Linked DNA regions of Homo sapiens. Changing the gene in region 4 together with the main gene of any one other region gives a genetic interaction. Each region holds a gene or a part of one and is shown on either strand. Other genes may lie near its edges. The genes, in order: INA, SMARCB1, DAPK3 and PTP4A3.

Region 1 (7,034 bases), on a different chromosome or scaffold from region 4:
TTTGCTGTAAAAGGCTTTCATCATTAGACAATGGTAGCGTCATCCAGACATGGTCTACAGGAAACAAACAAAAAACAACAACAGAGAAACTGCAGCATCTGCAGCTCTGCGGTGCTGCCCCCATCAGCTTGAGCCTTTAGAGCCACAGAGGACCTGCTGATGGGAGTGGAAGAGGAGGTCAGACAACAGAGAGCTGGTTCCCTACTCCTTGGGACCTAAGGCTAAGGTGGAGCTCAAGTCTTACCTGCAGATCCTAACGGCCTGATGCCACAAGGGTGTCTCTGACTGTTCTAACAATCTTAGCAGTGCTGACCAAGGTGAAAAGCCTCCCTTTCTACAGTGAGATTTAGCCATTGTTTTCTTGCCCTCTCATCTCATCCCCACCTTTCACTGCAGTAATGGGAGGCTGTTCTCCTTCTTCTGCTACAGAGATTAGTGGTAGGGCCATTTTTCTTTTCAAACTTGGCACCCTCTATGAAACATAGGAAGGCCCCATTAAAGTCCCATCTTCTCTGCCCCAGATAGCTGATAGCCTATTTAAGGAGAGAAAGCTTCTTACACTTTTGAAAGGGTAAAAAATGATTCACGGTGACACAGTAAGTACACAATAGTGGATGAGAGAGTCTGAATCAGGCAAGAGAAGAGATTAGGAAGAGCTAAGGCTATTGTCTTCAAAAGCCAAATGCAACTCCCCTCTGCATAAAAAGCTGATGGGGTTTCCATTTCTGACATAGGGCAATGCTGGTGCCTACATAGCCACTTCGGCACCATTAGAGTCCTAGTTCTGTTAAAGATGTCCAAAGACATTCTTGGAGGGTACTCAGGGTCTCAGACCTCTACTGTGGTCAGTCTTGGAAAGTTGAAGCTTTCCTTGAAAGACCTTGCTGAATGATCAAGATCACCGCAGGTTAATGCTCTCCAGGGAGACAAGCCAAGTCTTCTCTTTTTTCTCCATTATGAGATTGGAGTACAGCCTAATTAAATAGCAGGAAGGGGCTGGCCCCTTGGAGACTGGAGGTGACAGTGGCTGCATATAAATCCATAGCTTGATAGATCCATTTCTAAAATTAGCTACATTTGATCTTTTTTAAGCTCTTCCACCTGGTTTTTGTTTCATTTTGTTTTGTTTGCCCCTCCCTATCTTACTGTATTACTGTCACCTGGGCTACCATGATAGCATCTTTATAGAAAAAAATTTAAACTAGTGGATCCTAAACCCAGTGACACTCTAAGGTCAATTGGGGGCTTAAAAAAATTATCAGGCCCACTCCCAAAGATATGGATTCAGCAGTTCACAGGTAGGGCCCGGGAATATGCATTTTTCAATAAAAGTGCTGCATCCTGTTGGTCCTCAGACTGACTTTGGAGTACATTGATCTAAACCACTTCTTCCAGTAAAGTAGTTTACGGAGATACGTATAATACAGGATTTTCGAGTGTGGTGGAGGAAAGAAAAAGATGGGGACAAAGGAAAGGTAGGAGTGAGAATAAAGCACGCATGGTGAACCACAAATAAAAATCCTCCGTCCCCACTCAAGTTGATTATGCAGAGCAGTAATTCTAAATAGCCTCTTTCAATCAGACTGTGGGGCACTCACTACTGCCTCCCTGACCCAGGGCCCCCAAACGTGCTGAAATCCACAGCTCTGTCGTTCTTCTTCACCACTGCAGATGTTAGTGTGGCCATTCATTTCTCTTACTCCACCCGGCATCCTTCCAGCCACGGGCTGCGATGCTCAGACGAGCTAAGACGATGCTCAGCGTTTGTCTTAGCTCCTCCAGGAGAGACCCCAGCTGGAGCTGGGCGTGCCGCTCTCCGGTTCCCTCAGGCTAAGCCGGCAGCAGCTGCGTGGTTGGGGGAGGGGACAGACTGCAGCGCTCTGCTCAGATCTCGAGCTGGAGGCCATCTTTGGCAGGGCTTCTGAAGGGCAATGCAAGACACAGCCTGATGTGGGGAGGAGAGCACAAACAAAGAGACCAGACATTGAAGAGCAATCAATGGTCAGAACACAGCACACTTCCTTCTGAAAGGAGCAAAGTTGTGCTTTTCTCTACAGTGATCTGTAAAATAGATATATGAAATCTGCAACATAGAAGTTCAAGGAAATCTCATCTGTCTAGAACTCAGCTCCCCAACCACCTCTTATTCAGAAAACACAGCTGTGAAACAAAAATAATGTTTTAAGCAAGGACCTAATTAACCTGCTGATGAGACATATCATCTATCTCTAAGCCAAACATTAGGAACTTGGCACCTCTACTGCCCCCAGCCTATTCATTCTTAACACGATTTCAAAATGCTTTTTTATTTGGTTTCAAGACTGCAGCAAGATGGAGAATGGGGACCACTGGAGTCAGGCATTGTTAAGAATGAGCAGCAGCAGATCCGTTCATCTTTCAGAACAAAGAAAATCAATGAGCATCAACACTAATCCAAACACCGCACTTTGGGGCCATTTAGGGTAGAATTAAACAGCCTGATATACCTCGAATGACCTAAAAGATGTCACCGAATTATTTTTAAAATTGATTATTATCATGACCCTTAATTGCTGTGGAAGGTGGCATTATGTTTAGTGTCCTGATTGTGAGTGGTATAAGCCACTTTAGAAAGGCTTTTTATTCAAAATTGTTATTAAAAAAAAAAATCTGGTGCTTTAAGGTATATGCCTCCAACTATCCAATATTAAAGTGTTGTTATATGTTACTTTTCGTAGTTATCTAAGGGGTTGGTAATAGTGAGGGCTTGTGATTAATTTGTCTATATCATCAAAAGGATAGAGGGCCATGTGGTATGATATTATCAAGAATAAAAATCACTAACATTTATTGAGTTCTTCCTGTGTGCCATGCTGTTCTGATGCCTACTAATTTAACAGATAATGGACTCATCATATATTAATGTATATGTGAGATATATTAAATTGAAATCCTAATTTGAGGATCTCAGAACACCTTAGAAAAAGAGTAAACATAACTTTCCGTATGCAGAAGTAGAAGATTGGAAGGAACTAAAATGTAGAAAACTGGCTGAGGTCCAATGGATGTTAGTGGCAGAGCAAAAACTGCAACCCAAGTTCCTGATGAAATCCTCCTCTTATCTTCATATAGCATTCCTCCTCCTTCTTTGCATAATCATATTTTCTTCTTTCTCCTTTTTCCCTCACTCTAGACTCTTTTCCCTCTTACCACAGTAATATTGATTCTCTTGTCAGTAGCTAGAGGGTCTATGTCAGTGATTCTATGTCAGTAGCAGAATTGATTATAACCTCAAATAGGAACTATCAGGTAAAATTTCTTGGTAAAAATCTCTTTAAGGCCTCATGATCTCTTAACACACTTTGAAATATATGCATCACGGTCCAGTATAATACGTATTTTTCCTACTGACTGTCATTCCTTGTTCTGTACCCATCAGTCAATTGAGACTCCTCTTTGCAGTATTCCTGTCAATATTTATAGAACAGGTAGGTGGTATGAATTTTAATTCTGCAAATTCTCTTGATTTGGAAGTTTGTACCCCCTGATGTCTCAGCCCTACCTTTCACCATTGCTTTATCATTCTCACACAAGGGGAGTTTCAAGGGCCTGTCAACACTTACTTTCTTGAGGTTTCTGATATGTTTATCTGCATCACTGTTTCTTTTTTTTTTTTTTTTTTTGAGATGGAGTTTTGCTCTTGTTGCCCAGGCTGGAGTGCAATGGCACGATCTCAGCTCACTGCAACCTCTGCCTCCCAGGTTCAAGTGATTCTCCTACCTCAGCCTCCAGAGTAGCTGGGATTACAGGCACACGCCACCACGCCCAGCTAATTTTTGTATTTTTAGTAGAGACCATAGTTTCACCATGTTGGCCAGCATAGTCTCAGTCTCTTGATTGACCTGAACTCCTGACCTCAGGTGATCCACCCGCCTCAGCCTCCCAAAGTGCTGGGATTACAGGCATGAGCCACCATGCCCGGCCCTGCATGACTGTTTCTTAAAAATAACCCCCAATCATTGTGTCTTTTTTTTTTTTTTTAAGACGGGGTCTTGCTGTGTCGCCCAGGCTGGAGCACAGTGGCGCCATCATAGCTCACTTCAACCTCCGCCTACCGGGCTCGAGCAATTCTCTCAGCTCAGCCTCAAGTGATTCGCCTGCCTCAGCTACCCAAAGTGCTGGGATGCCCTAGAGATGTTTTCTTGTTATCGCAACTGGGAGAGGGAAGTATGTGCTTCTGGCATCTAGCCAGGGATGTTACTAAATATCCCGCATTTCACAATAACAAATAATTAGCCAGCCTAAAACATCAACACTGCCAAAGTTGTAAAACTCTGTTATAGAGGAAAGCAACAGAAAATAAACTAGTATAAACCAGTAAATTGCCGGGGCCGGACACTGTGACTCATGCCTGTTATCCCAGCACTTTGGGAGGCTGAGGCGGGCGGATCACGAGGTTAGGAGTTCAAGACCAGCCTGGCCAACATGGTGAAACCCCATCTCTACTAAAAATACAAAAATTAGCCAGGTGTGGTGGTGCACACCTGTAATCCCAGCTACTCAGGAGGCTGAGGCAGGAGAATTACTTGAACCCAGGTGGTGGAGGTTGCAGTGAGCTGAGATTGCGCCACTGCACTCCAGCCTGGGTAACAGAGCAAGACTCCATCTCGGAAAAAAAAAAAAAGAAGAAGATAATTTCATATAATGGTAAGAGCTGAGAGCAGGGTGGCTGCATTCAACTGAGTGCTTTTTTTCTAATTTGCACAAGGTTCCTGCATGGGCCAGTAGCTGCTCTGGCTTAAGGTAAAATAAAGTGCTGGGTTGGTCGAGGATGGATACTTAAATTGGATGCAAATGAAGACCTGTCTGAGGAGAGGACATTATATTTTATTTTATTTTATTTTATTTTATTTTTTGAGATGGAGTTTCATTCTTGTTGTCCAGGCTGGAGTGCAATGGCACGATCTCGGCTCACTGCAACCTCCGCCTCCCAGATTCAAACAATTCTCCTGCTTCAGCCTCCCTAGTAGCTGGGATTATAGGCATGCACCACCACGCCCGGCTAATTTTTGTATTTTTAGTAGAGACAGAGTTTCTCCATATTGGTCTGGCTGGTCTCGAACTCCCAACCCCAGGTGATCCTCCCGCCTCAGCCTCCCAAAGTGCTGGGATTACAGGCATGAGCCATCGTGCCTGGCAGGAGAGGACATTTGAACTGAATCTTTTTTGAGACAGAGTTTTGCTCTTGTTGCCCAAGCTGGAGTGCGGTGGTACGATCTCAGCTCACTGCAACCTCTGCCTTCCAGATTCAAGCGATTCTCCTGCCTCAGCCTCCCAAGTAGGTGGGATTACAGGCGCTTGCCACTGCACACAGCTAATTTTTGTACTTTTAGTAGAGACGGGGTTTCTCCTTGTTGGTCTGGCTGGTCTCGAACTCCCGACTCCAGGTGATCCTCCTACCTCAGCCTCCCAAAGTGCTGGGATTACAGGCATGAGCCATCATGCCTGGCAGGAGAGGACATTTGAACTGAATCTTTTTTTTTTTTTTTTTGAGATGGAGTTTCGCTCTTGTTGCCCAGCTGGAATGCAGTGGCGCGATCTCGTCTCACTGCAACCTCCCCCTCCTGGGTTCAAGCGATTCTCCTGCCTCAGCCTCCCAAGTAGCTGGGATTACAGGTGCATGCCACTGCACCCAGCTAATTTTTGTATTTTTAGTAGAGACGGAGTTTTGCCATGTTAGCCAGGCTAGTCTTGAACTCCTGATCTCAGGTGATCTGCCTGCCTCAGCCTCCCAAAGTGCTAGGATTACAGGTGTGAGCCACCACACCCGGGTGAACTGAATCTTCTATGACAAGGAGTCGGCCATGTAAAGACCGGCATTTTAGATAGAGGAAATAACAAGCCTGAAGGGCCTGGGACAGCAATGAACTTGGTATAGTTAAGGAGTAAAAGAAAAGACCAGGCTGGGCATGGTGGCTCATACATGTAATCTAAGCACTTTAGGAGGTAAAGGCAGGAGTGTCTCTTGAGGCCAGGAGTTCAAGACCAGCCTGGACAACATAATGAGACCTCATCTTTACAAAACAAAAATCTTTTTTAACTAGCCAGGCATGGTAGTGTACACCTGTTAGTCCCAACTGCTTGGGAGGCTGAGACAGGAAGATCGCTTGAGCCCAGGAATTTTGAGGCTGCAGTGAGCTGTGATCACACCACTGTACTCCAGCCTAGGCAACAGAGCAAGACCTTGTCTCAAAAAAAAAAAAAAAAAAAAAAAAAGAATTCCTTCTGGCTGCTCAAGGACTATAAATATATAAATATAAAGCGATTTCTCTTCCATGCCTCGGTGTTTTAAAAATTCTGTGGAGTATTTCTGCTTTCTCCTTACCTATAATGTAAAATGCTCTCAGTAAAGTGACTGATTAGCAGGCTTCTAGGAAATCATCAAAATGAATGGAGGCAGAGAGGTCTTCCTGGAAAGCTCTCTGTGCTTTCCACATTCGGAATTTTCTGAATCTAAGCTGCTAACCTGAGGCTTTGGGTTTTGGAAAGCACATGCTACAACAGAGTTATTTAGCAGCAACACAACAAGCAAGGGAGGGATGGTAAGTGTAAAAAAAAAAAAAATCATCTCCATGTTCAGTTCAGAACTATATGCCGTGTGGCTATCCTGAAAAGGGCAGGTGTTCACTTGCCCTCTGGGTAAAAGTTCCCAGTCCTCACCATGAGTCCAAATCTCCTGGGGACCTTTATGAAAAAAATGCAAATGCTGGGACCCCACCCCAGAACCAGTGAATCTGGATCTGGACTCAGGGACAGACCTGGATATAAGCAAGTTATAAGTTCATTAGATGATTTTAATGTGTAGTCAGGGCTGGGAATCCTTGCCTTCTGGAAATCTTGAGGAATTTCAGCTGGTTTGGCCTAACTATTTTGGATATGTTACTTTTCAGGATAGCATTGGGCAGCTGGAGAATGATCTGAGGAACACCAAGAGTGAGATGGCACGCCACCTTCGGGAATACCAGGACTTGCTCAATGTCAAAATGGCTCTTGAC
Region 2 (6,845 bases), on a different chromosome or scaffold from region 4:
CAGGCCTCTGAGGCTCTGGGTACCTGTCAGGCTGGGTATTAGCCCAGCCCAGATTCCGGGGCAGGCAGAAGGGCTCCCTAGAGGGAAGAGAGGTTCTGAAAGGCCGGCCCTGGATCCTGCAGGACTCGAGGAACTCAGCAGTGGCCAAGGGCTTCCCACTCAGCCCTCCCTTAGTGCCCATCCCTGGGCACAGCCTGACAGGCAGGAGTAGGGCCCAGTGTCCGCTCGCCCAGGCTTGACCACCTTCTCTTCTCAGGCTATGCCTACTTCCTGCGCGGCCGCCTCTACTGGAAGTTTGACCCTGTGAAGGTGAAGGCTCTGGAAGGCTTCCCCCGTCTCGTGGGTCCTGACTTCTTTGGCTGTGCCGAGCCTGCCAACACTTTCCTCTGACCATGGCTTGGATGCCCTCAGGGGTGCTGACCCCTGCCAGGCCACGAATATCAGGCTAGAGACCCATGGCCATCTTTGTGGCTGTGGGCACCAGGCATGGGACTGAGCCCATGTCTCCTCAGGGGGATGGGGTGGGGTACAACCACCATGACAACTGCCGGGAGGGCCACGCAGGTCGTGGTCACCTGCCAGCGACTGTCTCAGACTGGGCAGGGAGGCTTTGGCATGACTTAAGAGGAAGGGCAGTCTTGGGCCCGCTATGCAGGTCCTGGCAAACCTGGCTGCCCTGTCTCCATCCCTGTCCCTCAGGGTAGCACCATGGCAGGACTGGGGGAACTGGAGTGTCCTTGCTGTATCCCTGTTGTGAGGTTCCTTCCAGGGGCTGGCACTGAAGCAAGGGTGCTGGGGCCCCATGGCCTTCAGCCCTGGCTGAGCAACTGGGCTGTAGGGCAGGGCCACTTCCTGAGGTCAGGTCTTGGTAGGTGCCTGCATCTGTCTGCCTTCTGGCTGACAATCCTGGAAATCTGTTCTCCAGAATCCAGGCCAAAAAGTTCACAGTCAAATGGGGAGGGGTATTCTTCATGCAGGAGACCCCAGGCCCTGGAGGCTGCAACATACCTCAATCCTGTCCCAGGCCGGATCCTCCTGAAGCCCTTTTCGCAGCACTGCTATCCTCCAAAGCCATTGTAAATGTGTGTACAGTGTGTATAAACCTTCTTCTTCTTTTTTTTTTTTTAAACTGAGGATTGTCATTAAACACAGTTGTTTTCTACCTGCCTGCTTGGTCTCCTTTTGTGAATGTTCAGCCAGGATGGGGAGGCCTGGCCACTGTCCAGCCCTATCCTGGGAGCCAGGGTCGAAGTCCACCACCCCCAAGCCTCTGGCCCTTGGGGCTGGGCACAGTGCTCAGGGCTCCTTCTGCTCCATTTCTACATCACATTTTGCTACAGTGGCTTCTTAACTGGCTCCCCACTTTCCTACTTGTCCCCTCTGTTCATCCTCCAGAGTGGTGGTTTATCTGCTCATGCCACAGCCCAGCCTGCCATACATAGCTGTGGTTTCTGCATCCGTAGGCTCAACTAACCTCGGGTAGAAAAAACAATGTTTAAAAAAAGGATGCGGACGGGCGCAGTGGCTCGTGCCTGTAATCCCAGTTCTTTGGGAGGCCGAGGTGTGTGGATCACCTGAGGTCAGAAGTTTGAGACCAGTCTGGCCAACATGGTGAAAACCCATCTCTACTAAATATACAAAAATTAGTTGGGTGTGGTGGCTCATGCCTGTAATCCCAGCTACTTGGGAGGCTGAGGCAGGAGAATCACTTGAACGTGGAGGCAGAGGTTACAGTGAGCTGAGATAGTGCCATTGCACTCCAGCCTGGGTGACAAGAGCAAAATTCCGTCTAAAAAAATAATAAAGTAAATAAATAGGCTGGGTGCAGTGGCTCATGCCTGTAATCCCAGCACTTTGGGAGGCTGAGGCCAGCAGATCACGAGGTCGGGAGATCGAGACCATCCTGGCTAACACCATGAAACCCCGTCTCTACTAAAAATACAAAAAATTAGCCAGGCGTGGTGGCGGGCGCCTGTAGTCCCAGCTACTCGGAAGGCTGAGGCAGGAGAATGGCGTGAACCCAGGAGGCGGTGCTTGCAGTGAGCCCAGATCATGCCACTGCACTCCAGCCTGGACGACAGAGCAAGACTCTGTCTCAATAAAATAAGTAAATAAATAAATAAATAAATAAATAAATAAGGGATGGTTACCTCTGTACTGAACATGTACGGACTTTTTTCCCTATCATTGTTCCCTAAACAATAGTATAACAACTATTTATATAACATTTGCATTGTATTAGGTAGTATAAGGAATCTAGAGATGATTTAAGGTATACAGGAAAGTGTGTGTAGGTTATATGCAAGTATGACACCATTTTATATAATGGACTTGAGCATCTGTGGACTTTATTATCTGCAGGGGGTCCTGGAACCAATTCCCATGGATACTGAGGGATGACTGTACTTTGGTTTCCCACCACTGTGAGGATACAGAACAAAGCAACTTCAGTCACTGCCCTTCCCAACTCTCCAGTGTCTCCTTGCCCTACCTTCCAGCCCCATGTGTGTCTTCGTAATAGCATAGTTGCATTTTTTTTTTTTTTAAGAGAGGCAGGGTCTCCCTTTGTTGCCCAGGCTGCAGTGCAGTGGTGCAATCAGCTCACTATAACCTTGAACTCCTGGGCTCAAGGGATCTTCCCCTCTCCACTTCCCAAGTAGCTGGGGCTACAGGTGCACACCGCCATGCCACACCCAGCTTATTTATTTTAGAATTTTTGTAGAGACAGGGTCTTGCTGTCTTGTCCAGTCTGGTCTCAAACTCCTGGCTTCAAGTGATCCTCCCTGCCTTGGCCTCCTAAAGAGTTGGGATTACAAGGCCGGGCGCAGTGGCTCACACCTGTAATCCCAGCACTTTGGGAGGCCGAGGGGGGCGGATCACGAGGTCAGGAGATCGAGACCATCCTGGCTAACATGGTGAAACCCTGTCTCTACTAAAAATACAAAAAATTAGCTGGGCGTGGTGGCGGGTGCCTGTAGTCCCAGCTACTTGGGAGGCTGAGGCAGGAGACTCCAGCCTCAAAAAAAAAAAAAAGAGTTGGGATTACAGGCATGAGCCGCTGAGCCCAGCCACAGCTGCAATTTCATTAGATTGAACGGTGTGAAATCATCAGTAGTGGGCCACTGTTTTACTCCCTGCATTATTCAATCATGATTGCTTTCAGACTTTCATTAGTTTCACTAGCTTCGCGCTGTAAGAGCCAAGAGGCAGAGCCACAGGGCTGGGCTGCCTGGTTTCACTCCCCACTGCAGGGCTCGGTTAAGCAGAGTGTAGGCTAAGAGAGGAATGGAGAAGGTGGAAGGTGTCTCTCCCTTCCAACGCTCATCTGATGCACCAGCCAAACCAAATACCACCTGGGCCTTTGAACATTGCCAAGCCTCATCCGCTGTTGTCATTTTGCCCACCTCCACAGCTGCAGGGACAGCCGTAGGCCCGGAACTGGGATATCTCTTCCTAGGGGCCTGCCTATCTGCTCAGCTGCACTGCGTTTTAGGGGTGGGGAAGCTAAGGCACGAGATTGGGGTCCCAAAGCATGCCCAGACCACCCAGGCTTCCAGATACTAGGTCCTCCTCCTTCAGGCCTCACTTCGTTGCTTTTCCCCTGGGCTCAGTTCCAGTCCTGGCTGTAAGACTGGGAAAGCCACTGCTTGAGTCAGGACCTCATTGGCTATTTTTGTCCGTGAGAAGTCCTCTACACCACGACTTGGGAGGCAGCCTGGGAGAAAGAGAAATTAGTCGTGGCTCCTTTAAGGGGTCCGCGGAGGCGCGCCCGGCCTTTTGTTTGAGCGGCGGCGCGCGCGTCAGCGTCAACGCCAGCGCCTGCGCACTGAGGGCGGCCTGGTCGTCGTCTGCGGCGGCGGCGGCGGCTGAGGAGCCCGGCTGAGGCGCCAGTACCCGGCCCGGTCCGCATTTCGCCTTCCGGCTTCGGTTTCCCTCGGCCCAGCACGCCCCGGCCCCGCCCCAGCCCTCCTGATCCCTCGCAGCCCGGCTCCGGCCGCCCGCCTCTGCCGCCGCAATGATGATGATGGCGCTGAGCAAGACCTTCGGGCAGAAGCCCGTGAAGTTCCAGCTGGAGGACGACGGCGAGTTCTACATGATCGGCTCCGAGGTAGCCCGGGGCGCGTTCTCGCCCTCCCCGGGCTCGGCCCCGCGGGAGCCCCGGGGCGGGCCCATGCGCCGAGAGCGCGCGTCTCCATTCATCGGGGCGGGCGGGCGCGCGCGCGCGCGCTCGGGGCTGTGGGGCGTGGCCTAGTGGGCGTGTCGGGTGTGGCCCCCGCCCCCTCATCGACCTGGGATTTCCTTACTTATTTCGCCGAGGTCCGCCGCCTTCAGTGCTGCCAAGATTTTGGCGCCGCGAGGGGCCCCAGTGGTTCCGCGCTGGGTTGGTTTCCAGTCAGACGCAAAGAAACGGGATATTGAGTTAGCCCCTGCGACGCTTGGGGGACTGCACTGCTGCCTTTGACCCTTTTTAGATGTCGTAAATTTCACGTGCACCCCTCCCCGTATTGCTACTTGTGGGAACCTCAAATGGCAGGCTGGAAACCCTGGACTTAGTGAGGGCTCATCCCCATTGTGTTTGTTGCCTCTTAGGTGAGCAGTGGAGGTCTTTTGACCTTTGTTTACCGGTGAAGAAACAGATTGGAGGAAGATGTTTGCTTTTGGGTGAATAAGGGCCCCATGCCTAAGCTAGATCTTTCAGCAGTTCTGAAGCGATTGACACTTTCCATATCTGTGAACTGATTCTGAATTATTACAGGGGAAAGAGCCTAAGGATGTTTAACCCTTAACTAGAGTGGCTGCATTTTGTTGCATCAACTGGATGACTGACTTCAGGAAAACTCTACTGGCCTTTGAATGGGTGTTTGTTCCAAGTCTATTAGGTTCTTGTTTTTTGTTTTTTATAGAGACAGGGTCTGGCTATGTTGCGCAGGCAGGTCTCCAACTCCTGGGCTCAAGCAGTCTGCCCGTCTGGGTCTCCCAAAGTGCTAGGATTACAGGCATGAGCCACCACACCCGGCCATATATTAGGTTTTTACAGATTGTCTCAAACTAGCCTTTTTTGCTCCAAAGGCAGTCCCCAGCTAGTATATGTTACCTTTTTAAAAAAATTATGGATATACAGTTCAGATGTACAAATGTCAAGCAGTAGAATCTCATGTAAGGAAGTAAGTGCCAATCCTGGAGAATTAAAGCTATCATGAAATGCCAAGAGTTTCTTCTCCTTATAGCAGTTTTTAGTATCATATTCCAGCATTTTATTCGTACTTTATTTTCTTTTATTTTTGAAAAAAGATCTCACTTTGTGCAGTGGTGTGATCTCGGCTCACTGCAGCCTTGACCTCCTGGGCTCAAGCGATCCTCCTGCCTCAGCCTCCCAAGTACCTGGGACTACAGGTGTGCACCACCGTGCCCGACTAATTTTTGTATTTTTTGTAGAGACAGGGTTTTGCCATGTTGCCCAGGCTGGTCTTGAACTCCTGGGCTCAAGTGATCCTTGCACCTCAGCCTCTCAAAGTGCTGGAATGACAGGTGTGAGCTACTGCACTCACACTCAGCGCATTCATACTTTTTAAACTTGTGGGTTTTATCCTTCACAATTGAGCATAGCATGAATGAATGAAGCCTCAAGATGGTCACACTGAGTCCCATGGATGAGACTAAGGTCAATAGCATCAGAACTTTAGTGTTAGCATTTTCCACCATTTTTTTTTTCTGGACGAGGTTTGACTCTATCACCCAGGCTGGAGTGTAGTGGTGTAATCTCGGCTCACTGCAACCTCCGCCTCCCAGGCTCAAGCCGTCCTCCCACCTCAGTCTCCCAAGTAGCTGGGACTACACGCACACACCACCACACCCGGCTAATTTTTATATTTTTAGTAAAGATGGGGTTTTACCATATTGTCCAGGCTGGTCTTAAACTTGTGAGCTCAAGTGATCTGCCCGCCTCGGCCTCCCAAAGTGCTCGATTATAGGCGTGAGCCACTGTGCCTGGCCTCCACTAATTTTTATAAAACAAAAAATATAGGATTCAATAAAATTTTCACGTTGTCACTTAAATTACAACTGTTCAAAGATGCCAGTGCTGGGGAGGTAGAGCCAGTGCCTGTCCATCTGCCACAGTTCAGAATGGTCCTCATTGGCCAGTAGGCACCTGCCTAACTGCAGAATGCAAAAGGTGTCAAATTTCAGCCTGTGATACTAGGCGAGTTGTTTACCTGATCTAATGGGTGTAAAAGTAATCAGTTTGGCTCTAAGTAGGTGACACTTCAAAAGAAAGCTTTCATTTATTAGTTGGAGCAAATTGAGAAGCTGTGCGTGGCCAAGTGGGAAGAACCTTGGGAGGCCTGGTTCCAGCCCTGCTCTGCCTTGCTGTCGTGTTTCTCATGTGTATAATGTGATGCTTAGACTAGATGGTCTCCAAGATCTTCCCCAAAACACATTTTAGTTTCTAGAAAGCTAATTACAGTCTTGTCTTTCAGCCCCTTGACTCCTGGGCCTCCCAGTAAGAATAATCTTCCTGAGACCCAGGCTGTAAGAGACTCAGTTGGAGAGGCAGTTTGTTCTTTTGGGCCTGACTTAATCATCAGACCTTCGGAGTTTAGGGAAGAGTTCAAGGTCAGAGCTCTATTGAAATTCAGTAGCTCCAGTGATAGTAGTGGATGGACGGTCTCAGCCCACTGCCCTGTGGAAAACAGGCACTGTATTCAGAGAGGTGGGCCAGCCATAGCAACATACCCAGTGCCTCCATGCGCCATCTGTGGAGCTGTCTTGGGAAGGCATCTGCATTTACTAAGAGTGTGTGTCACTGTTCTGCCATTAACAGACAGCTGTATTTACCAAGCCGG
Region 3 (3,181 bases), on a different chromosome or scaffold from region 4:
AAGCAGGAGACGCTCACCAACATCTCAGCCGTGAACTACGACTTCGACGAGGAGTACTTCAGCAACACCAGCGAGCTGGCCAAGGACTTCATTCGCCGGCTGCTCGTCAAAGATCCCAAGTACGAGGGGCCGGCAGGGGGCACGGGGTGGGACATGGGACACAGGCCCACTCCACCCACGGAGGCTCCAGAGGACTCTCCTCCCAGCGCCACCTCCCTGCGGCTGGGGATCAGACATTGCTTACCCCTTGGGCTGGAGAGAGTAAACTGATAAACTGGTGGCCCAAGCTGGCCATTGCCATGGTTTTTTTTTTTTTTTTTTTTTGAGACGGAGTCTTTTTTTTTGAGACGGAGTCTTGCTCTGTCTCCCAGGCTGGAGTGCAGTGCAGTGGCGTGATCTCGGCTCACTGCAGCCTCTGCCTCCCGGGTTCAGGCTATTCTCCTGCGTTAGCCTCCCAAGTAGCTGGGATTATAGACGCCCGCCACCACGCCTGGCTAATTTTTGTATTTTTAGTAGAGACAGGGCTTCACCATGTTGCCCAGGCTTGTCTTGAACTCCTGACCTCCTTGGTTTGTGATTTGCCTGCCTTGGTCTCCCAAAGTGCTGGGATTGCGGGCGTGAGACACCGTGTCTGGCTGCTTGCTGTGTTTTTAGCAAACTTTTAATTAGTTGCCGGTGTGTAAAGTAAGGATCCATGTAAAATTCCAGGTCACTTGTTTTCCTGTAAACACTTAGAATTCTGGCAGTGCTGAGCCCTCACTCGTAGGCCTCCCCGGGCCTCCATGGCCGCCCAGTCCCTCTCTCGGGCGCCTGGGTTTGCGACTCCAGCCTGAGGTCTCAGCTCTCTCCACCACCCCCCAGAAAACCCCACGCTCCCTGCAGTACCCTTGTTCAGCTTCTGTGGTTGGCTGAGCAGAGGCTGGGGGGCGACTTTAGGGCTTTTGGGGGTCCCGGGAGTCAGTTGTTCACGGGAGGACGGGACAGATGGTGCAGGTGTACCTAACCAGAGCGGGGGTCTTCCAGGCGGAGAATGACCATTGCCCAGAGCCTGGAACATTCCTGGATTAAGGTAAGTGGGGAGGTGGGGGAGCTCCCTGGGCTTCCCGCCTTGGCCTTCTCGCTGGGGTCCCGGGGGGCCTTCAGCATTTAAGGCTTGTGGATGTGACAACCCCCAGTGGCTGGGGAGGGTCCCCAGAGGAGTGAGCCTGTGTGGCGGGGGTTGGGTCCTGGGCGTGGGATGTCCAGCACCCGACAGACCTGGTGGCATCCTTGGCTGGTGTGTGTCCAACGGGGCTGACTCCTGGGGCCAGGGCCGCAGCGTTTTTCTCGAGAGAGCACTCTCGGCTTTGCGTCGGGCTGGGCAGTCTCCGTCACGAGGCGTTGACTCTGCTGCCGGATGAGCCCCTGAACCTCAGTTCACACTGGCAGGTGGGGGCTGGCGGGGCTGGGTGGCATCGCGGGGACCCCGCTCAGGCTTCCCTCCTTCCTAGGCGATCCGGCGGCGGAACGTGCGTGGTGAGGACAGCGGCCGCAAGCCCGAGCGGCGGCGCCTGAAGACCACGCGTCTGAAGGAGTACACCATCAAGTCGCACTCCAGCTTGCCGCCCAACAACAGCTACGCCGACTTCGAGCGCTTCTCCAAGGTGCTGGAGGAGGCGGCGGCCGCCGAGGAGGGCCTGCGCGAGCTGCAGCGCAGCCGGCGGCTCTGCCACGAGGACGTGGAGGCGCTGGCCGCCATCTACGAGGAGAAGGAGGCCTGGTACCGCGAGGAGAGCGACAGCCTGGGCCAGGACCTGCGGAGGCTACGGCAGGAGCTGCTCAAGACCGAGGCGCTCAAGCGGCAGGCGCAGGAGGAGGCCAAGGGCGCGCTGCTGGGGACCAGCGGCCTCAAGCGCCGCTTCAGCCGCCTGGAGAACCGCTACGAGGCGCTGGCCAAGCAAGTAGCCTCCGAGATGCGCTTCGTGCAGGACCTCGTGCGCGCCCTGGAGCAGGAGAAGCTGCAGGGCGTGGAGTGCGGGCTGCGCTAGGCGCAGTGGGGTGGGCCAGGCCCCAGGACAGCCGGAGCTCGGCCTGCGGTGGGGGCGCTTCCTGTGGACGCTGCGCCTCCCATCGCCCGGGTGCCTGTCCTTGCCCAGCGCCACCAGGCTGGAGGCGGAGTGGGAGGAGCTGGAGCCAGGCCCGTAAGTTCGCAGGCAGGGGTGGGTGTGGGACGGGGCTGCTTCTCTACACAGCCTCCACGCTGGCCTTCACCTTCACCCCTGCATCGTCGGTGACCCTGGGACCCTCCAGGCAGCGTGGCCTGTGGCACCGTGAGGGTTGGGACCCACCGAGGCGCAGAGGCGGCCCGAATGCAGCCCTGGTTCAGGCCCGGAGGAGGGTTTGCGGGTAGTTGCACGGACAATTCGGCGGGGTGCTGCCTGTTGCTGCCATTAGCCCAGGAGGAGGTCGTGGGACGGGGAGGGTGGGATGGACGGCGGACAGGCAGTCCCCACGCTGCTGGGTGGCGCCGGGCTTGGTGGGGTCTTCCACTGTGTGCCCTTCTCGCCGAGGCCGGTCCCCCGGGTGTGGGGTGCCCTGCTGCGGACTCCTCCGCGAGCCCCATCGTCGCGCCTGTGGACGCCTAGGCAAGAGCGGCCCTCTGCAGCCAAGAGAAATAAAATACTGGCTTCCAGATACGCGGGTGTTGTGTGCCTCAGGCCTTGGCAGGGGACAGCCAGCCCTTGGCCACTGGGGATATGCCCTCCGCGGCGTTCATGTTTCTCTCTGTGTTCCATGCCTGCCGCTGTGCTCAGGAAGGAGGGGACAAACCGGGGGTCCTCGCAGACCTTCACGGTGTCCTGGGAGCTGCCGGATCTTGGTCTCAGCTGCCCCGAGTGTTTTGATTGCAATGAGGTGGAAGCTCTGGGCAGCTGAGGTGGATCAGAAGCGTTTCCTGTCCCTTTGCGCCTTACGGGATGCTGCTGTGTCCCACGTGGGAGCCCCTGCCCCGTCTGGAGCCACATGCAGGTGGCCCTGGAGGGGGAGCGGCTCAGCTCAGCTGCTAGGGCTCACAGGTGGTTTCAGAGAGGGGCCCCGACCCTGTCCATCCTCCCTGGAGGAAGTTTTTTTGCTTTTTTTTTTTTTTTTTTTTTTGAGAGCGAGTCTGGCCCTGTTGCCCAGGCTGGAGTGCAGTGGTGCGATC
Region 4 (7,674 bases):
CCTGCTCAGATGCAGTGCCTGGGACGTGCCTCCTGGATGCCCCCACGACAGTAGCTGCAGCACTGTCTAGGGGGGCTCCCGCTGCAGGTCCCAGTGATGCCTGGCACAGGTGCTCAATGAAAGTTTGCCAAACTCAGGGGCAGGGGGAGCCAGGAGCGCTTTCAGCTGCCAATGGGCGACACAGCTAGAGCATCCAGGCTTAGGGTAGCCCCACTGCTGCAAAGGTCCCAGCTCAGTGTCCCACCAAACTCCCACACCCTACCTCACTGGTGGTCTCAGAAGTCCAGGTCAGGCACTGCCATACCTCCACCCCAGCCCCCAAGGGGCCGGAGCTCAGCCTGCAGTGGCCTTCCCTCATCCTTGTAGGTGGCACCAGCTGCAGGCTTGGGAAGCCGCCCCACCCTGCCCACACCAAGTCAGGGCAGGCCTGGGTGCCCCACAGAACACAGTGAGGTGGCACTGGGTGGCCTCTGAGGTCAGATCACACGTGTCTTGCTCTCCTGGGTAGCTCCTTGTGGGGGAGGCCAGCCCCAGCACTGGGAGGACACCCAAGCATCCCTACAGAGGGGCGTCTTGAGGAAGACTCTGAAGCAGCAGCTAATAACCTGCATGGCCTGGCCAGCTGGGACAGTGAGAGGGTTCCGAAGGGGATCCCCCAGCCGCAGTCGGGCCCTTGCATGTCTGGAACCCTGGCCATCTGACTGCATCTCATGAGACCCCAGCCAGAGAACCGCCCCGCCCAGCCACTCAGAACTCTTGACCACAGACGCGGAGAGAGAGCAGGTTTTACAGGCACAACTAATACACAAATGAAAATGTCACCATCACAGTAGCGTGGCTGCATTAACGAAACTAGGGGAAGGAGGGAAATGAAAATGACTTTCCCAGCTCCTGCACGCCAATCCCCCGAGTCCTGGCCTCCCTCAAGCCCTGCTTCCTCTTCGCATCAGGGGCGTGGCTGCTTACGCTGGTTCCCTCGATAGCAGAGCCTGAGATAGGGACATTGGTGCAGGTGGTTTATTTGTGATGACCAGGTGAGGGAGCCAACACAGGTGTGTTATGGAGGTCTCAGCTGGTTTCAGGACCTCCTGAGAAGTGTGCCGGACACCTGAGGAAGGTCCTTCTGCAGATGGGAGGCAGGTGTATCCGCCAGAGCCCTGCCACACTGCGGAGGGCTGGCCCTCCTCTGCCCTTCAGGGCTTGGTACACACGGAAGGCAGGCACTGAGGAGGAGGGTCCAAGCTCGCTCAGAATGGGCCACTGCCACTGAAATCAGGGAACAGAGGGGACGTGAAGTGGCCCAGAGAGCATCGTTCCGCACACTTACTCTCTTCCTAGATGTATACTCCTGCACCCCGCTCCTGTTTACCTAACTAACCACTGAACAACAAGCTCTTTTTTATTTTGTTTGACGCTCAGGGCTTGAGGAGGATTCAAAAGGACAGTCATAAAGACATCTACTTCTGCGCAGGCAGAAGCAACGCAGCACTTGACAGCCACCATCTTGTGGGTCTTCCCAAGAGCCCTGTGAGGTTGGAGCTATTACTATGACATTTATAGATGGGGAAACTGAGGCCAGGAGAGGTCAAAGTGTGCAGCCCAGTGATGGGGGCTCAAGAGCTGCTGCTGGTGCCATTAGCCCACCCATGCCCTCCGTGGCTGGATCTAGGTCCCCCAGCCTGGGCCCCTCCTGTAGGGCCCTGCTGGGCTGGAGGAGGCTTTCCAGAAATCCACTTAACGCTGACCTCGTCTTTGTCCTCCTTGGAGCTAATCTGCTAATCCTGCCAGCCCCAGTGGGCCTCACCACTGTCTAGATCGTCCTGCATGGTTGGCATCCCTCTCCAACAATCCCCCACCTGCGGGGGCCTCCTCCTGGCCATGCCTCCAGGGCTGGGCAGGTCCAGTGACTGGGGTAGGTGGAGCTGGGATTCTTTCTGTGGAACATTCCTCAATCCTGGGGGAGATTCTGGAGTCTGGAATTCAGGAGACTGGGCCTGGCTTCTGACCCCACCTTTTCACGGCTCAGCCATCATCTCTGAGGCCCCGTTTTCTCCTCTGTAAAACACGATCACTTTGAGCTCTCTTCCGGCTATGAAATCCCAGGATTCTCCCCAAGCCTGTTCATGCCCGGCCCATTCCACTCACAGCAGTTGGACAGCTCTGGTTTCACCGTGCCTGGGTTTGAATCTTGATTCTGCTTTCGCTTAGCTTCTGCTTCCTAATCTGCAAAATGGGGGTGTCAGGGATTCCTCTGCAGGGCTCAGTGTGGACTTGGTGGGTGGGTGTAAGTCCCTGGCATGTGGTCAGCACTCGGTGAATGTCTGAGAACTGAAATGAATCCAGCATGGAGGAGCCTCCTCCTTTGCTCCCGACTCCCTGCAGGATGGTAAGAGCGTGGGGAGGAAGGAGGCTCCAGCCTCTCGGGAGCCCACTCACCCCAGCAAATTTGGGTGGCTGGGATAGAAACCTCTCTGAGATTTTGGGCAGGAGAGGAGGAAAATAGCATGAAACAGGCAGGGGGTGTTGGTGCTGCTCAGGCTAGATGAAGCCAAACATTTATTTATTAATGCTTTTTTTTTTTTTATCTTTTTTGAGACAGGCTCTCGCTCTTTCACTTAGGCTGGGGTGCTGGCGGGATCAGGGCTTACTCTAGCCTTGTCCTCTTAGGCTCAGGTGATCCTCCCACCTCAATCTCCAAGCTGGGACTATAGGAGCATGCCACCATGACTGGCTAATTTTTTATTTTTTGTAGAGATAGGGTCCCACTATGTTACCTAGGCTGGTCTTGAATTCCTAGGCTCAAGTGATCCTCCCGCCTCAGCCTCCCAAATTGCTGGGATTATAGTGTGAGTCACTGTGCCCGGCCTTAAGCTAAACATTTAAAAAATAAGAATTAAAATGCAGCCACAGTGAAACGGGAAGGGGCTGCTTTTACAGGTGCTGAACTTCCCGGCAATAGAAGCATTTAATGGGAGGTTCCCTTTTTCCTAGGACCTCAAAGCTGGAGTACCAGGGATGTTGCCTTGACCTTCCCATGTGTGGATTTCTGCTTGAACACACCAAGTACAGGACACCCTGTTTAGCAGCTAAACGTGGGAATTGCACCAGCTTTACTCCCAACTTGCTGGGCAATCTTCGGGAGTTGCTGACCTTCTCTGTGTCTCATCAGCAAAACAGGGAGAACACTAGCTCTCCCAACATGGGCTGTGTGAGGACCAAATGAGCTGAGGAGCCCAGATTTGAACCCGGGTCTGCAAGGTTATGTCCTCTGAGCCATCCCCACCCCTGCCCTTAAGGACCAGGGGCCTCTGGACACCATCAGCTTGCCCACCTGTCCAGGATTTGCACGCACCTGCTCGGTGCCAGATGCTGGGCACTGGGGACAAACCAGGTGAGGTGTGGACCGTGACCTGTGTTGTCACTGATTGGGGGACTTTCTGGCAGAGTGGAGAGTGCAGTGGGCTGAGAGACAGGATGGCCAGTGGAGACTGAGCTCTCAGAGGCGGCGGCAGCTGATGGGGACCATGCAATGGGAAGGATGGAGGCCCTGGGATAGTCTGCGGTGAACTTCCAGGCAGAAGGAACAGCAGGTGCAAAGGCCTTTAGCTGGGAAGGAAACTCTGGGTTGGAGGAATAGCTTGCAGGCGCTCTGAGAGAGGCTGGCAGCCAGGTGGCAGGGAGGCAGCCCAGTCAGGTGGTCTTGGGACAGTTTAGGGTCTCTGGCCTTCACCAGTGAGGTGGTGTCTGGAGACTTTTGCAGACGAAGGCAGCTCTCACTCCCATCTTCCCGGGGTCCCTCTGGCTGCTGAGGGTGGATGGGTGGAAAAGCATCTTTCAGGGAAGTGGAGGCAGGGCTGGAGCAGTTGAACATCTGACTGGGCCAAGGGTCCAGGGACTGGCATGGAACAGGGCTGGGTGGGTGAGGCCGCCTGGGAGACCCCAGCTTGCCTCTGTTTCCCCCTGTACTGGGGCCTCCTGCGTGAACCAGCACTGGTTTTTCCAGTAACTGGAGCCACAAGCCTCCCTAGGAACGGCTGACCCATAAGAGGACGTCCTCAAGGTCCCCAAGGGCTAGAGGCTGAGATGCCGCCTTCGCCTGGGCGGGCCTCGCAGCCTGGAGGCAGGCGGTGGTGCAGCTCGGGCAGGCCCCGTCCACACGCCTCCCCGCTCTTCTGAGCACCACGCGTCCCGTGGGCTCCCTACCCGTCCTGATAACACGGCGGTCCGGGGGCCTCGAAGCCGGTCTGACCCCAAGTACCCGGGCCAGGCGGCTGCCGTCTTGTCGCCCCAGCCCATCCCCTCAGCCAGCCCGCCTGGCGGCACGGGACCTAGCCCCAGTCGACTTAGGGGGAAACTGAGAACTCCAGAAGTTTCGTGAACTCCCTGGCTTCGTCCGCATCCCGCCCTCTGCCTCTTCGCTCGGGCTTCAAAACTGCCCCTCCGACGCCCGCCTGCCCCAGGCCGACCTGGCCTAGGCGCCCGGCAGGCACAGGAGCCAAGGTCAGTCCCCGAGGCCGCCCGCGCGACCGGAGCCGCCTCCTCCCAGCCCAGGGGCGGCCTCGGGGGCGGCGGGCGCGCGGCCGCGGCGTGGGGAGCGCTCCCATTGGGCCGTGCCCCCACGTGACCCAGCGGGTCCGGCGCGCGCCCTAAGCCGGTGGAGCCGCGGCCGCGCCTGTGCGCGAGGGCGCGCGCGTCCCGAGCCCTCCACCCGTCGTGCCGGCGCCGCCCGGACCGCCAGGTCAGTCTCCTCCGCGCCCGCTCGGGGCGGGGGCGCGCGGCGCTTTGTGGAGGCGCGTGGGGGGCCGTCCGCGCGCGAGCCCGCCGCCCGCTCCGGGCACGGCTTCGGGGCCGCGCAGCCGGGAGGGCCGCCGCCTTCCCCCTGCCCGCGCGTCCCGGGACCCTGCGCCTGGCGGCCGATCCGGCGGGAACGTGGGCCTGGAGGCTGCCACGTGCCGGGGCCGAGCCTCAGGAGGCCGCTGTTTCCCCAGGCGAGCCACAGAACACCCCTGGCTGGAAGGGGGTGACCCGCTCCCGTTTCTGGGTGCGCGGGAGACCTCCTACCCTGAGTTCATCCTGCGCAGGGTCCCGCCCAGGATCTGGCTCTGCCCCCATTCACGGCTCATTTTCCTCAGCTGCACAGTTTGGGGGGCTGGAACCCCACAGCCTTCCGTGCCTCCAGGGCGGGTCGTAGATGTCAGTGGAGGTCAGGGGAAAGCAGAGCGTCAGGTCTCAGGCCGGGTGGAGTCCGCCTCAGACCATACCAGTGTTGGGACTCGGGCGGCGCCTCAGCCCTCCAAGCACACCCCGGTAGAATCAGGTCAGCAGCCTTGATCCACGTGCCTCAGGGATTAAACGGGTGACTCCTGACACGCCCCTGGGCAGCTGGTGGCCCAGGGGTGGGGTGGTGGCATGCTTAGCTCCAAGTGGGCAGAGCAGTTTCACCCTGCCGGTTCCCGGAGGGAAGCCCTTTATGAGGGAGGCTTCCCTGGCCCTCTGTGATAGCGGCTCCAAGGGCAGCGTGAGGTCCAGGCTAGCTGGTCACAGTGTGTGCCCGGGCACCCTCAGCCAAGACAGAAAGGCACGTGCTGCACCCCCTCTCTCTGCCTGCGGGCTCTGGGGTGTGCCCCGCACACGATGGTGGGTGTTGGGCATCCACCTAGTCTGTGGACCCTGGGGGCCCTGCTCCCAGGTTGGAGCAGTGTCCTCGGCTGCAGACCAGAGGAGGTCACTGAACACAGGGTGCCTGTGGCCTTGCACAGACAGAAGCCGCCTGGCAGCCCTGTGCAGAGCCGTGCTTCACTGAGTTCCTGCAATCCTCCCAAGAAGTTCGTTAACCCCATTTCTCAGATGAGGAGACTGAGGCCCACAAAGGTGGAGTTGGTGCAGCCCCTAGCCTGCGGGGCTAAGCAGAGCCTTGTTGTCCCCATCTGCAAAGGGGGCGTTGGAGCTGCTGTAAATGGGCCCCGAACCTGTCACCTGAGTGGAATTAGGCATTGGGGATCTCCCCATCACCACGCCGGCCCCCCTCACTGTGGTTACGAAGGAGGAGAAGCTGCCCTGTGTAGGAATTCCTGGGCTGTTTCCAAATAGCCCCGCTAGGGAGCTGGTCACCCCTCAACACCCCCAACGTGTTCTCCAAGCACTTACTCTGTGCCAGGCCCAATGCTGGACCTGGAGATGGGGCATGGCTGGCTGGCTGAGCGGGGCAGGTTGCGGACAGGCCCCCGCAGGCAGTCGGCGTGATGGGAGAAAATGCAGGCGGGGATGAGATGCAGCCTCCAGGTGGTTTCCTCAGCTGCCTGCTCCTCTCTGCCTTTGCCCTCCTCCCGGAAGCTTGCGCTGACCACTGGAGTAAGGCTGGGGGCCTCAGCTGGTCCCCTCTCTGTCCCAAGTAACAGCCCAGAACATGGTGAGGGTGGCTGGCTGATGCAGTCAGGCACTGGACATGGGAGGCAGGAGGAAGGCCGGGAGGTGGGCAGCTTTCTCAGACAAGTGGGCAGTTTGGATGGCGAGGAGGTCTTGGAGGCACCATGGGTGGCTGGGCTCAAAGATGACATGAGGGCATGCTTAACAGATGCTTAACCAAATCCTGAATTGGCATTGGCCAATTTCTGTGGTGTAACTACTCCCAAGCTACACAGACGTGACTTTACTGGCTGAGGACTTGGGCAGAGGTGCACACAGTCAGACTGAGAGGGGGGCATAAGCTGGTGTGAGCCCTCCCTCTCACCGCCAGGGTGGGCAGAGTGTCCGCTGGTGCCCAATGCCTATGCACGTGACCTCCTTAGGGACTTACATCCAGATGGCGGTGATACAGCTTGGGGAGGCCTCTCCCTGGTTGGCAGGTCCTGGCGAAAGGGTGAGTTAAGTGGAAAGTGTACCAGGCTGGTGTCCAGGTGGCATTTGGCCAGAGGGGCTGAGCTGGGAGCTCCTGGGCCTGGGGCTGGCAGATAGTGGTGATTTTTCGCCCCCCAAGACCTTGGGCTTGCCTTGTTCCATGAAGGTCCCAAATCTGACCAAAGGCTGTAACCAGATGGTCACTGTCCCAGACCACCCCAGGGCGCTTTCTCACCTCGAGAGCACCGTTTCTCCCCACCTCCACCCTGGCCGCCCTTGCTGTCACCTACTCCCTCTGGTCCCTGGCACCCCTCCCTGCCTGCAGTGGTGTTTCCTAGCAAGTGCAGCAGCCCGAGGCTGGGCTAGAGGCAGGAGGGCCTGGCCTCCCAGTGTCTTGCTGGATACTTGGTTTCTTGCCCCTCCGTTTCCACACCTGTAAAATGGGAGCAATGACAGGTCTTCCTGGCAGGACAGTGGTGAAGCTTGGTCACACGGGTGAACATGTGTGAGGTAAAAAAGACTTCCCATCCCTCCTTCTGACCTGGACCGGCTCGCAGGACCCATAGGCAGGGACCTGGGCAAGGTCCGAGGGCCGATGAGCCCCGTCCTCTCTGCACAGTTCAGAGTTGGGTGGGAGTGGCTGTGGGCTGCAGGAGGAGGTACTGCACTTCGCACAGTTACGTGGTCGGGTTGGCATCGCCGCCGCCTGACTTCGGCGCCCCGCGAGTTGGGTGTGTGCGGTTGGGGGCGGCCCAGAGTGTGCCCCACGCCTGCCAGTCGGGTAGGCCAGCCTCCCTGGAGAGAGGGGGGCCTCCCCAAGGTGGGACGGGGACAGGG

The links.
Region 1: changes in PTP4A3 (region 4) and INA together harm fitness less than expected from each alone (positive genetic interaction), as found in Homo sapiens cells (one study listed by BioGRID).
Region 2: changes in PTP4A3 (region 4) and SMARCB1 together harm fitness less than expected from each alone (positive genetic interaction), as found in Homo sapiens cells (one study listed by BioGRID).
Region 3: changes in PTP4A3 (region 4) and DAPK3 together harm fitness less than expected from each alone (positive genetic interaction), as found in Homo sapiens cells (one study listed by BioGRID).

Annotation. Positions count from the first base shown.
Region 1 is NC_000010.11:103,280,106-103,287,139, forward strand, and holds part of INA (alpha-internexin), read left to right. Parts: intron 1-6,929; coding exon 6,930-7,034. UniProt on the Homo sapiens protein: Class-IV neuronal intermediate filament that is able to self-assemble. It is involved in the morphogenesis of neurons.
Region 2 is NC_000022.11:23,783,155-23,789,999, forward strand, and holds the start of SMARCB1 (SWI/SNF-related matrix-associated actin-dependent regulator of chromatin subfamily B member 1), read left to right. Parts: upstream 1-3,811; 5' UTR 3,812-4,015; coding exon 4,016-4,108; intron 4,109-6,845. Other genes in the region: MMP11 (stromelysin-3 preproprotein), read left to right, coding at 257-390.
Region 3 is NC_000019.10:3,957,947-3,961,127, reverse strand, and holds the end of DAPK3 (death-associated protein kinase 3), read left to right. Parts: coding exon 1-119; intron 120-1,023; coding exon 1,024-1,069; intron 1,070-1,490; coding exon 1,491-2,027; 3' UTR 2,028-2,675; downstream 2,676-3,181. UniProt on the Homo sapiens protein: Serine/threonine kinase which is involved in the regulation of apoptosis, autophagy, transcription, translation and actin cytoskeleton reorganization. Involved in the regulation of smooth muscle contraction.
Region 4 is NC_000008.11:141,387,347-141,395,020, forward strand, and holds the start of PTP4A3 (protein tyrosine phosphatase type IVA 3), read left to right. Parts: upstream 1-4,674; 5' UTR 4,675-4,738; intron 4,739-5,061; exon of another isoform or gene 5,062-5,275; intron 5,276-7,674. UniProt on the Homo sapiens protein: Protein tyrosine phosphatase which stimulates progression from G1 into S phase during mitosis. Enhances cell proliferation, cell motility and invasive activity, and promotes cancer metastasis.